Linked DNA regions of Homo sapiens. The protein of the gene in region 1 interacts with the protein of each later gene in a pairwise test. Each region holds a gene or a part of one and is shown on either strand. Other genes may lie near its edges.

The links. Proteins that work in one complex are often made in the same cells at the same time.
Region 2: the proteins of NR2E3 (region 1) and HOXC13 interact in a two-hybrid assay, tested with the Homo sapiens proteins (one large-scale study listed by BioGRID and IntAct).
Region 3: the proteins of NR2E3 (region 1) and DEDD2 interact in a two-hybrid assay, tested with the Homo sapiens proteins (one large-scale study listed by BioGRID and IntAct).

Annotation. Positions count from the first base shown.
Region 1 is NC_000015.10:71,813,554-71,816,939, reverse strand, and holds part of NR2E3 (photoreceptor-specific nuclear receptor), read right to left. Parts: coding exon 3,305-3,386; intron 2,929-3,304; coding exon 2,823-2,928; coding exon of another isoform or gene 2,819-2,822; exon of another isoform or gene 2,011-2,818; intron 1-2,010. UniProt on the Homo sapiens protein: Orphan nuclear receptor of retinal photoreceptor cells. Transcriptional factor that is an activator of rod development and repressor of cone development.
Region 2 is NC_000012.12:53,941,831-53,944,437, reverse strand, and holds part of HOXC13 (homeobox protein Hox-C13), read right to left. Parts: intron 1-2,607. UniProt on the Homo sapiens protein: Transcription factor which plays a role in hair follicle differentiation. Regulates FOXQ1 expression and that of other hair-specific genes.
Region 3 is NC_000019.10:42,211,178-42,214,677, forward strand, and holds part of DEDD2 (DNA-binding death effector domain-containing protein 2), read right to left. Parts: intron 1-3,500. UniProt on the Homo sapiens protein: May play a critical role in death receptor-induced apoptosis and may target CASP8 and CASP10 to the nucleus. May regulate degradation of intermediate filaments during apoptosis.

The DNA.
Region 1 (3,386 bases):
AGATGGTTCGACTTTATCATGGTGTGAAAGTGATAAGCATTCAGTATGCTCCTTGACTTAAGATGGGTTATGTATGAAAATTCATCTTCAACTTACAGTAGCTTCAACTTAACAATGGGTTTATCCAGATGTAACCCCATCATAAGTCAAGGAGCACCTGTATATGAAAATATTATTATTAATCTCATATATAAGTATTATAATTATATGATTAGTTTTTAGTAGATAAGAATTGTTTGTAAGAATACAAATTCCTGTCTGTATACCACCTAGGATGATGATAGCCATTACTGAAAATGTCCTGAAGTTGAAGGATAATTTTGGTGACTGAGATAGTCATTGAAAAAAATATTTATTGTTTTAAATAAGAACTATTTGCTGGCTGAGCGTGGTGGCTCACGCCTGTAATCCCAGCACTTTGGGAGGCCGAGGCGGGCGGAACACGAGGTCAGGAGATCGAGACCATCCTGGCTAATGCGGTGAAACCCCGTCTCTACTAAAAATACAAAAAATTAGCCGGGCGTGGTGGTGGGCGCCTGTAGTCCCAGCTACTCGGGAGGCTGAGGCAGGAGAATGGCGTGAACCCAGGAGGTGGAGCTTGCAGTGAACCGAGATCACGCCACTGCGCTCCAGCCTGGGTGACAGAGAGAGACTCCGTCTCAAAAAAAAAAAAAAAAAAAAAGTATTTGCTAAGACAGGAGTCCGCAACACAAAAGACGGATGGTGAAGCCCCAAGAGACAGATGGGGGAACTAAACCTTCCCTGGGTAGGTCTGATGGCCAGGGTCAACACCCAGCATCAAGGAGGCTACTCCACATTGGGCAGTCCCATGCTCCTCTCACCGTGAATTTCGGGGAAGACTTCCCCACCACTCAGTGATCTGCTGGACTTGCTTTGCCAACCTAAGGCCTTCCTTTCTCTTGCTAGTGCCAAGTGAGCAGCACTGAGCAAGTCGTATACCCCTCCCATCTGCCTTCCCTGCTTCTGTTTTTCTGATCTAAATTAGAGTGGGAGGAAGAAGAAATAACTATAAAGTCAGTTAAAGAATGTTTTTTCCAAACTGCAGGTATTGCCTCACCTAGTGGGTCTGAAATTAAATTCAGGGGGTCACAATCAGCCTTTTCAAAAAAAGAAAAGAGAAACATCAGGTAAATTGTAAAAGCTAAGGGTAGGAATTACTTCGTGGAACTTCGCTTTGGTGTCTGTGTGCATATCAGGGGGCGATGGTAATTGTGTTTCTTCCTGGGTGTTGCAGTTTTTAAAAACTGAAATAATATGCTGGATTAGAGAACCCCAAACCACTATCTTCATGCTCAATTCCCTTGTAGTAGGCAATGAACCGCTATAAAAGGGACATAGGAAATCTTAATCAGCATTTTGAAATTTGACGCATAACCAATATGCCAGGACATCTCTGGGAGTTGGTTCCAACAGAAACTTGGCAGAGAAAGGCTGCTGGTTTCTGAATGTCTCTGAATCCCACTCTTCAGATGCTAAGTCAAGTCTTAGTAGTAGCAGCGTTCTCCCTATGCTCATAAGCAGCACAAATCTTCCTGTGCTATATGGCATATACTTTGTATACTGTGGCTTTTCTTAAAAGGAAATTACCTTTTCTCCTTGTAATCATTTCTTGGATTAGAGGTGATGCAAGGATGCCCATATTAGCTTGCTTCTTCAGAAAGAAACTGCCGGGAGCCCCAAAGATTGCAGATAACATGGTCTAAAATAGCCAGTAGATGCCTGAAGGCCAAATGTTCCAACCTTGCTGAGGCTCCATGACATCTGCCTGTGCTGGGCCAAACAGCGTAGTCCCAGAGCACCGGCTCCTGCCCCACCCTCGCGCAGCCACACTCAGCCTGCAGCAACTCTCCCCCAAACCTAGCCAGGGCCATCCATGTGCTTGGCATCTCTACAGGATGCTCAGTGCACCTACAAAACACCTTATCATCTTCCCTCAAAACCGTCTTTCCTCCTGGCTTTCCTTTTTATATTTTTAACAATGTCTTCTCCCAAAGAGCTCCTCTTCCCTCATTCCTTACCTTCACCCAAACACCGGGTCTGACCCATTTCAACTCCTAGAGTCTCCCTTCTGCTTCCCCTGGCCATGCCCAAAGATCAGAACTCCATGGAACCATCTGGAAGGTGGCAGTAGCTGCCATCCCCTTCCCAGTAGTATCCTCTGGACCCATGGCCATGCCAGTCTGCGTGAGGTCCAGCCCTGTGTATGACCCTCTGCTCGGAAACCTGCAGTAGCTGCCCTCTGCCTCCCAAGTCAGACGTGGCCTTTGGCTGGCATTCAAAGTCCTGAACGGGCTGGTCCTAGGGTACTTTTCTGGCTTATTCTCCCCATTTCTCACTGGCAGGAACCTGTTATACCTTCAAAGTGGGCTCCTGTTCTAACAACATATCATGCTTGCCCCTCTCTCCCTTTGCAAATGATGTTTTCTTTTAGACTTCTTCTTCCTTTCAAGTCCAGCCCTGTCTCCACAAAGTCCCTCCCAATTCTGCTTTATGTTTCCCATGCAAGGGGATCTCTGTCTCCTGCAGATTCATGCAACCCTCAGTACCTGGCTAGGGCAGTTTTTGTCTTCAGTGAGGTCACTGCCGGTTGTCTCTAGAAGGCAGTAGCTTTGTCTTATGTACATCTTGGTCCCCACTCCCGGGGCCTGGCACTGTGCCTGGGACACCATAGATGTTGGCTGTATGCTGTTGAACTGAGACCCTTGTGCTGTCTAATCAGTGAGCTCTGGGAGAGTGTGGGAGAGGCAGAGAAAGGTTAGAGGTCAGGGACAGATGAGTGGGTGGGCGCATGCTCAGGTCACCTCACGGGCTGGCTGGGGTGGTGGGCCTTGCTGTGCTGGCTCAGCATCACTTGGGACTGGTCCTGCAAGGCCTCTACGTGCTCAGGATCCTTCAGGCCCCGCGTCTCTGGGGAGAAGCAGCACCAGTGAGCTTAGCACAGGTTTACGGCTGTTATAAGGCTGGCCATGAAGTGGTGGCCCAGGGTTCTGGCTGCAGACATGGACCTGGGGCCCTGTGGGGTGGGCTCTGCCAGGCCCAGAGGAGCCACCAGGGGCTCCGGCTGGGGCTCAGGGTCTCCCAGGGGCTCCCAGCCTGCCCTGTCCCCTCACAGTCAACCAGGAGTGGCCCCAAGGAGAAGGGAGTCCAGCCTCACCACTCTCCTCCCACCCCCCAGGATAGAGGCCTACACACATCTGCACACATGGGGGTAGTGGAGGGAGAGTGAGAGGCAGATGGAAGTCACCAGAATTCCCACTCAAGGTTTGGGCAGAGACTCAGTTACCTGGCTTGAAGAGGACCAAGGCCTTCATGCAGGCAAACTCCGTGGGGTCCACCGCCAATGCCCGGAACCGAGAGATAGTTTC
Region 2 (2,607 bases), on another chromosome or scaffold:
AGGGCATGGCAGGCAGGGGGTCAGCTTCAGTGGGCCCAGACCACCAGATGAGTCTTCACGCCTTTGGACACTGGCCCTACGTTAGGGATGTGAGGCACAGATAGAAGATAAGTGTCCAGGTGAAGCCAGCCTGCTTGGAGGTCCACACTCTAGGAATTGGGGTCCAATGTTATGAACCACCTAACACCCAAGGTGGGGGGTCCTGAACCTGAGATATAGGGAATCAGGTGTCTCTGGAAGTAGGGGGTCCACACTGCAGTCCCACCAAAACAGAACAAATTCTGTTCCAACCGCCTTCCCTCTCCATTCCTTCACAGCTGAAGGAAACTGTCTACATCCCTTGCACCAACCATAACCCTAAACCCTAGATGCCTGTCATCCAAACCAATATTACCAGTTCTGTTTCTTTAGGCTCTGAGAATTTCACAGAAACTAAAACCAATATATATCACTTCTAACTCCATTTTCTACTCCACCCTCATCCCTGTCAATAAAGGTCACGCAACACTTTCAAGGGGAAGTGGGGGAACTAGGGAGATTATCTGGATAGCTCAGCCCTCAATTTTTTCCATGTAATTATTAGACTTTAGGTGAAAGCTAATGAGGAGGGCTGAATATTTGGGGTTTCCCCTTCATTCCTACCACATTTTGAAACTATAGACACAGCCCAGAGGGAAGACACAAAGTTCTTTCTGAAATGTTTGTTCCCATCCCACCCTCACAGAACACTTTCCCTGTACCCATCCCCATTGGGTCTGCTTTCTCTCATGGACTCTATACACAATGGGAAGAGTAGTGGTCACAGTGAGACACAGGGGAAAACAAAATGCTCAGGAAGAAAATGGGAGACGGGGTCCAATGGCCTCATTTGACTGTCTTCTGGTGACAATTTCTCAGGAAAACTGTTGGACCTGGCATTTTTCTCTGCCTCTGTGAGAATAAACTATGATTTAAAAAAATCTAAAAAACAAAATAACTTTATTTAAACAGTATGGATCCTTTAGGTTAAAAAGGATTTGTTTTTGAACACGACCATTATCTTTAAATCTCTCAGTTCTCAAATTTGTTTTACTCTTACAGAGGTAACCATGATTTGGGAAATTGACGATTTGTTGACAAGAATAGAATGAAGAGGATATGTAGTGATACCATGAGTTTGTTGCTTTTGTTGTTGTTATTGTTGTTTTTAATCCTCAGAACATTTTTTCAGGATTATTTTGTTAAACTCATTTTACAAGATTAGGAATCTGAGGCTCAGAGTGGGTAAAATAACTTAAGTGGCAGAACCAGATTTTAAAGCCAGACTTTCTGACTCTTAAAATGATACAGTAAGTTTTAAAATGGAAATAGGCCAGCTAATACAATCCAGCTTTAAAACACCTCCTTTTCCCTGGAGAAGAATACAGTAGGGTAAAGGTGGGTTTTTGTTTCTGAATTAGCCAGATAATTGTCCCTAATTTTTTACTTTACTCTCTTTAAACTCTCACAATTACCTATCCAATTTTGGTTTCCTAAATTCTAGCTCTAAATTTCCAATGAGATTTAATCAACCCTAAAAAAAATCAGTTTAAAAAGTAGACAACTGGTTTAAACTGGTTATTTTTCTCTATAGGATGCCAAGGATTGATTTAGCCAATTTGTCCTGGATCAGACCAACTGCAGGTTGGTTTGGCCTCCTGGGGAAATAACTCCAGTCTTGCCTTCTCAAAGAAGCCCCCTTTCTTTGTCTGCTGCCTTATCTGGAAAGGAAATGGTATGTAGAGATGAAGAAACATCTGGTAGCTTGGACCTGGAGATGTGCGTACACTGCCTAAAGTGAGTGGGGGCTTAGTTATTAATCTTACAATCACCCCTTCCCTAGTCTCCCTCCAGATCACATACACGAATGACTTCATGCCTGGAAACCTAATAGACACCTTTGAGGAGTAAATAAAAATCATCTCAATGCTCAGCCATGGCTTTCTTTTTGGGCTTCGGGGCCCCTCTGTTCAGCTCCCCACAGCCCACCCACCCTTGACCACCCGCCCCCCCACAGGCAAGCTCTGGGCTCTGAAGAGTGCCTTGTCCAGCTAGAAATCCAGCTTGCTACTCTTCCCAACCCAAATCCAAAGGCTTGTCAGTAAAGACTTCTAGTGTGGTCCAAATAGCCCACTGTTTCTTTCTCCCTCTTTCTCTCTCCTAAACCCCATCTCTCTTTTTCTCCCTTTCTGATTCTCTCCTGGAATTTCTGCTTCTCTCTCTCTCTCAAAAAAAAAAAAAAAAAAAAAAAAAAAAAAAAAAAAAGTCTACACTCACCGTAGGGAGAAAAAAAAAAAAACCAGAGCAATAAAGCAAGAGTCTGTATAATTGGGAGAAGGAAGAAGCCACGACACATCTTGGCCCTAATTATCTGGATCTTGCTGAACAATTGCCTCCATCTCCCACACCAGCCCAGACTACCACAGATGAGGATTCTCAGAGCCAGAGGCACTGTAGAGAGACAGCAGTGTTTATGCCTACATGTTGCCGAACAAACCACAATTGCACAGACAGAGTTATCTTGAAATCTCACTACTTCTAAAAGATCTCTGAGTGGGTAGAAAGATGGAGAGTGTCTGAAGATAATTT
Region 3 (3,500 bases), on another chromosome or scaffold:
ACCTGGAACCCGGGCAACATGGAAAAACCCGTCTCTATTAAAATAAAATGTAAAAAAATTAGCCGGGTGTGGTAGCACGTGCCTGTAGTCCCAGCTACTTGGGAGGCTGAGGTGGGAGGGCTGCTTGAGCCCAGGAGATCTAGGCTGCAGTAAGCAGTGTTTGCGCCACTGGACTCCAGCCTGGGAAACAGAGCTAGACCCTCAAAGGGAGAAGGGAGAAGAAAAGGAAGGAAGGAAGGGAGAGAGGGACGGAGGGAGGGAGGGAGGGAGGGAAGGAGGAAGAGAGGGAGGGAGGAAGGGAGGGAGGGGATTGTATACATAATTGGTAACAGGAATACTCAGATGAAACAATTATTCAAGTAACTTGAAGAACATTCTGACTGTAAAATCTCAATGGGATATGCTCAGAGAACAAGAAACACAAATAAAATCTATGTTTCATTCACTAGATACAGTCAGCAGTTGTACTGACTTTGTTATTTTGATGCTATTTAATTACTGTTGTAAAATAAATCAAACAAACCCACATCTTAATGTTATTAAGAGGAAAGACTTTTAGTATAAAAAAGTCTGGCTGGGGCTGGGTGCAGTGGCTAACACCTATAATCCCAGCATTCTGGGAGGCCGAGGCGGGCGGATCACCTCAAGTCGGGAGTTCGAGACCAGCCTGACCAACATGGAGAAACCCTGTCTCCACTAAAAATACAAAATTAGTCGGGCGTGGTGGCACATGCCTGTAATCCCAGCTACTCAGGAGGCTGAGGCAGGAGAATCGCTTGAACCCGGGAGGCGGAGGTTGCGGTGAGCCGAGATTGTGCCATTGCACTCCAGCCTGGGCAACAAGAGTGAAACTCTTTCTCAATAATAATAATAATAATAATAATAAATTAATTAATTAAAAAGTCTGGCTGGGAGCAGTGGCTCACACCTATAATCCCAGCACTTTGGGAGGCCAAGGCAAGCAGGTCACCTGAGGTCAGGAGTTCGAGACTAGCCTGGCCAACATGGTGAAACTGCGTCCCTACTAAAAATACAAAAATCAGCTGGATATGGTGGTGTGTACCTGTAGTCCCCGCTACTCAGGAGGCTGAGGCAGGAGGATCACTTAAACCTGGGAGGCAGAGGTTGCAGTGAGCTGAGATGGCGCCACTGTACTCCAGCCTGGGTGACAGAGTGAGACTCCATCTCAAAAAAAAGTATTTGTGATGTTTTTGTTTCTTTGTTTAGAGTGGGGATCTCGTTCTGTTGCCCGGGCTGGAGTCCAGTGGCATGCCACCACACCCGGCTCGTTTTTTTTTTTTCTCTGAGACAGGGTCTTGCTCTGTCACCCAGACTGGAGTGCAGTGGCATGATCTCAGCTCACTGCAACCTCCACCTTCCCAACTCAAGCAATCCTCCTACCTCAGCCTCCTGAATAGCTGGGACTACACGTGCACATCACCATGCCAGGCTAATTTTTATATTTTTTATAGAGACAGGGTTTTGCCATGTTGCCCAGGCTGGTCTCAAATGCCTGGGCTGAAGCAGTCCACCCGCCTTAGCCTCCCAAACTGCTGGGGCTACAGGTGTGAGCCACTGCACCCGGCTAGGTTTTTTATCTTTTTAGACACAGGGTCTTACTATATTGCCCAGGCTGATCTCGAACTCCTGGCCTCAGGCAATCCTCCTGCCTCAGCCACACAAAGCACTAAGATTACAGGCATGAGCCACCAAACATGGCTATAACATTAATCTTTAAAATACTAACAGAAACTTTTTGAAAAGTCAAGTCTCTAACACTGTTCACTGAAAGAACCTAGAACAATATACACACTCAACACCCAGGTTTTGGTCTCTAAATACCACAGCTTCCTTGAAAAACAGCTGATTCTAGGGTGCGGAAGGGAAAGTTCAAAGTCAGCCCAGGACATCTTGCAGTGCCACAAAGCAGGAAGCACACAAAGAATGATACAAACACATGAAGAAGACACAAGAGGCTAGCCAGTTGGAACTGCAGGAAGACTGACTGACTGTAACAAGTCAGTAAATAGTGTATGGGTCTATAGTGACACTCAAACTCAAAGGGGCATTGGGGGAATACCTCTTGAAAGAGAAAGAAAAAAGAAAAAGAATTAGAAAAATCACCATTTTGCAAACACCAATGTGATAACTGGTTCAGGCAAAGCTCATAGATGTGAAACCCACTGAGTAAATGGCTATTAGGGAACAGGATATGCCAAAGTATCACCCCATAGACTGTTTACTAACCATGAGAACTAAATGTCCCTTCACAATGGACAAACATGGCAGATATCCCCTTAACCAAGTGACCAAACTTTCCCACATCGGAAAAGCCAGGCCGTACATGCCTGGAGATGTACTCCAATATGAACTAGATGGCAGCAACCAAGGATTATTCCTGCTAAAGATGTATAAACTGAATCTAACCAAGCCTCAGACACAATTCCCATTTAACAAAAAATGTAAGGGAAAGAGGGACGAGTTACATAACTCCATCAGGAAAAAAACAGACAGATAAAGAAACAATCAGGACATTCTACAAAACAACCGGCCTGCTAGGGTGAAAAAATCAATGTTACAGGAAAAAGAAAAAGGTATGGGGTGTAGGGGCAGTTTCTGTGCTATAGCAGGAGACATAACAACTGAATGCATACCAACTCAACTATGAATAGATTCTGAACGGTCCCACAGTCTGGGGATTTTTGAAAATGGACCATTAGAATGTCAGAGAATTCGTGTTTATTTTCTTAGGTATAATAGTCTTAAAGTGGTACAGGAGAATATCCTTATTCTCCACGGATGCCTAATTTAGGGGTAAAGCATCCTGATGTCTGTAATTTACTTTCAAAGGGTTCAACAAAAAAATCCAGAATTACGTATACACATAAAGCAAAAGTAGCAAAATCTTAACAATTATTGAACCTAAGTGGAAGATGTTAACTGTACTAATCTTTCAACTTGTATGTTTGAAATTTCACATAATAAAAAGAGGGGTGGCCAGGGCGCAGTGGCTCAAGCCTGTAATCCCAACACTTTCGGAGGCCCAGGTGGGCAGATCTCTTGAGGCCAGGAGTTCGAGACCAGCTTGGGCAACATGGTGAAACCTCATCTCTACTAAAAATACAAAAAAATTAGCCAGGCATGGTGTCATGCGCCTGTAGTTCCAGCTACTTGGGAGGCTGAGGCAGGAGAATTGCTTGAATCTGGGTGGCAGAGGTTGCAGTGAGCCGAGATTGCACCACTGCACCGAAGCCTGAGTGACAGAATGAGATTCTGCCTCAAAACAACAACAACAACTAGAGGTGGCTGGCATGATGGCTCATGCCTGTAATCCAGCACTTTGGGAGGCTGAGGTGGGAGGACTGCTTGAGGCTAGGAGTTCAAGACCAGCCTGGACAACAAGGGGGAGACCACACCTCTATAAAGGATGAAAAAATTAGCCAGGCATGGTGGCATACCCCTGTAGTTCTAGTTACTTGAGAGGCTGAGGTGGAAGGACA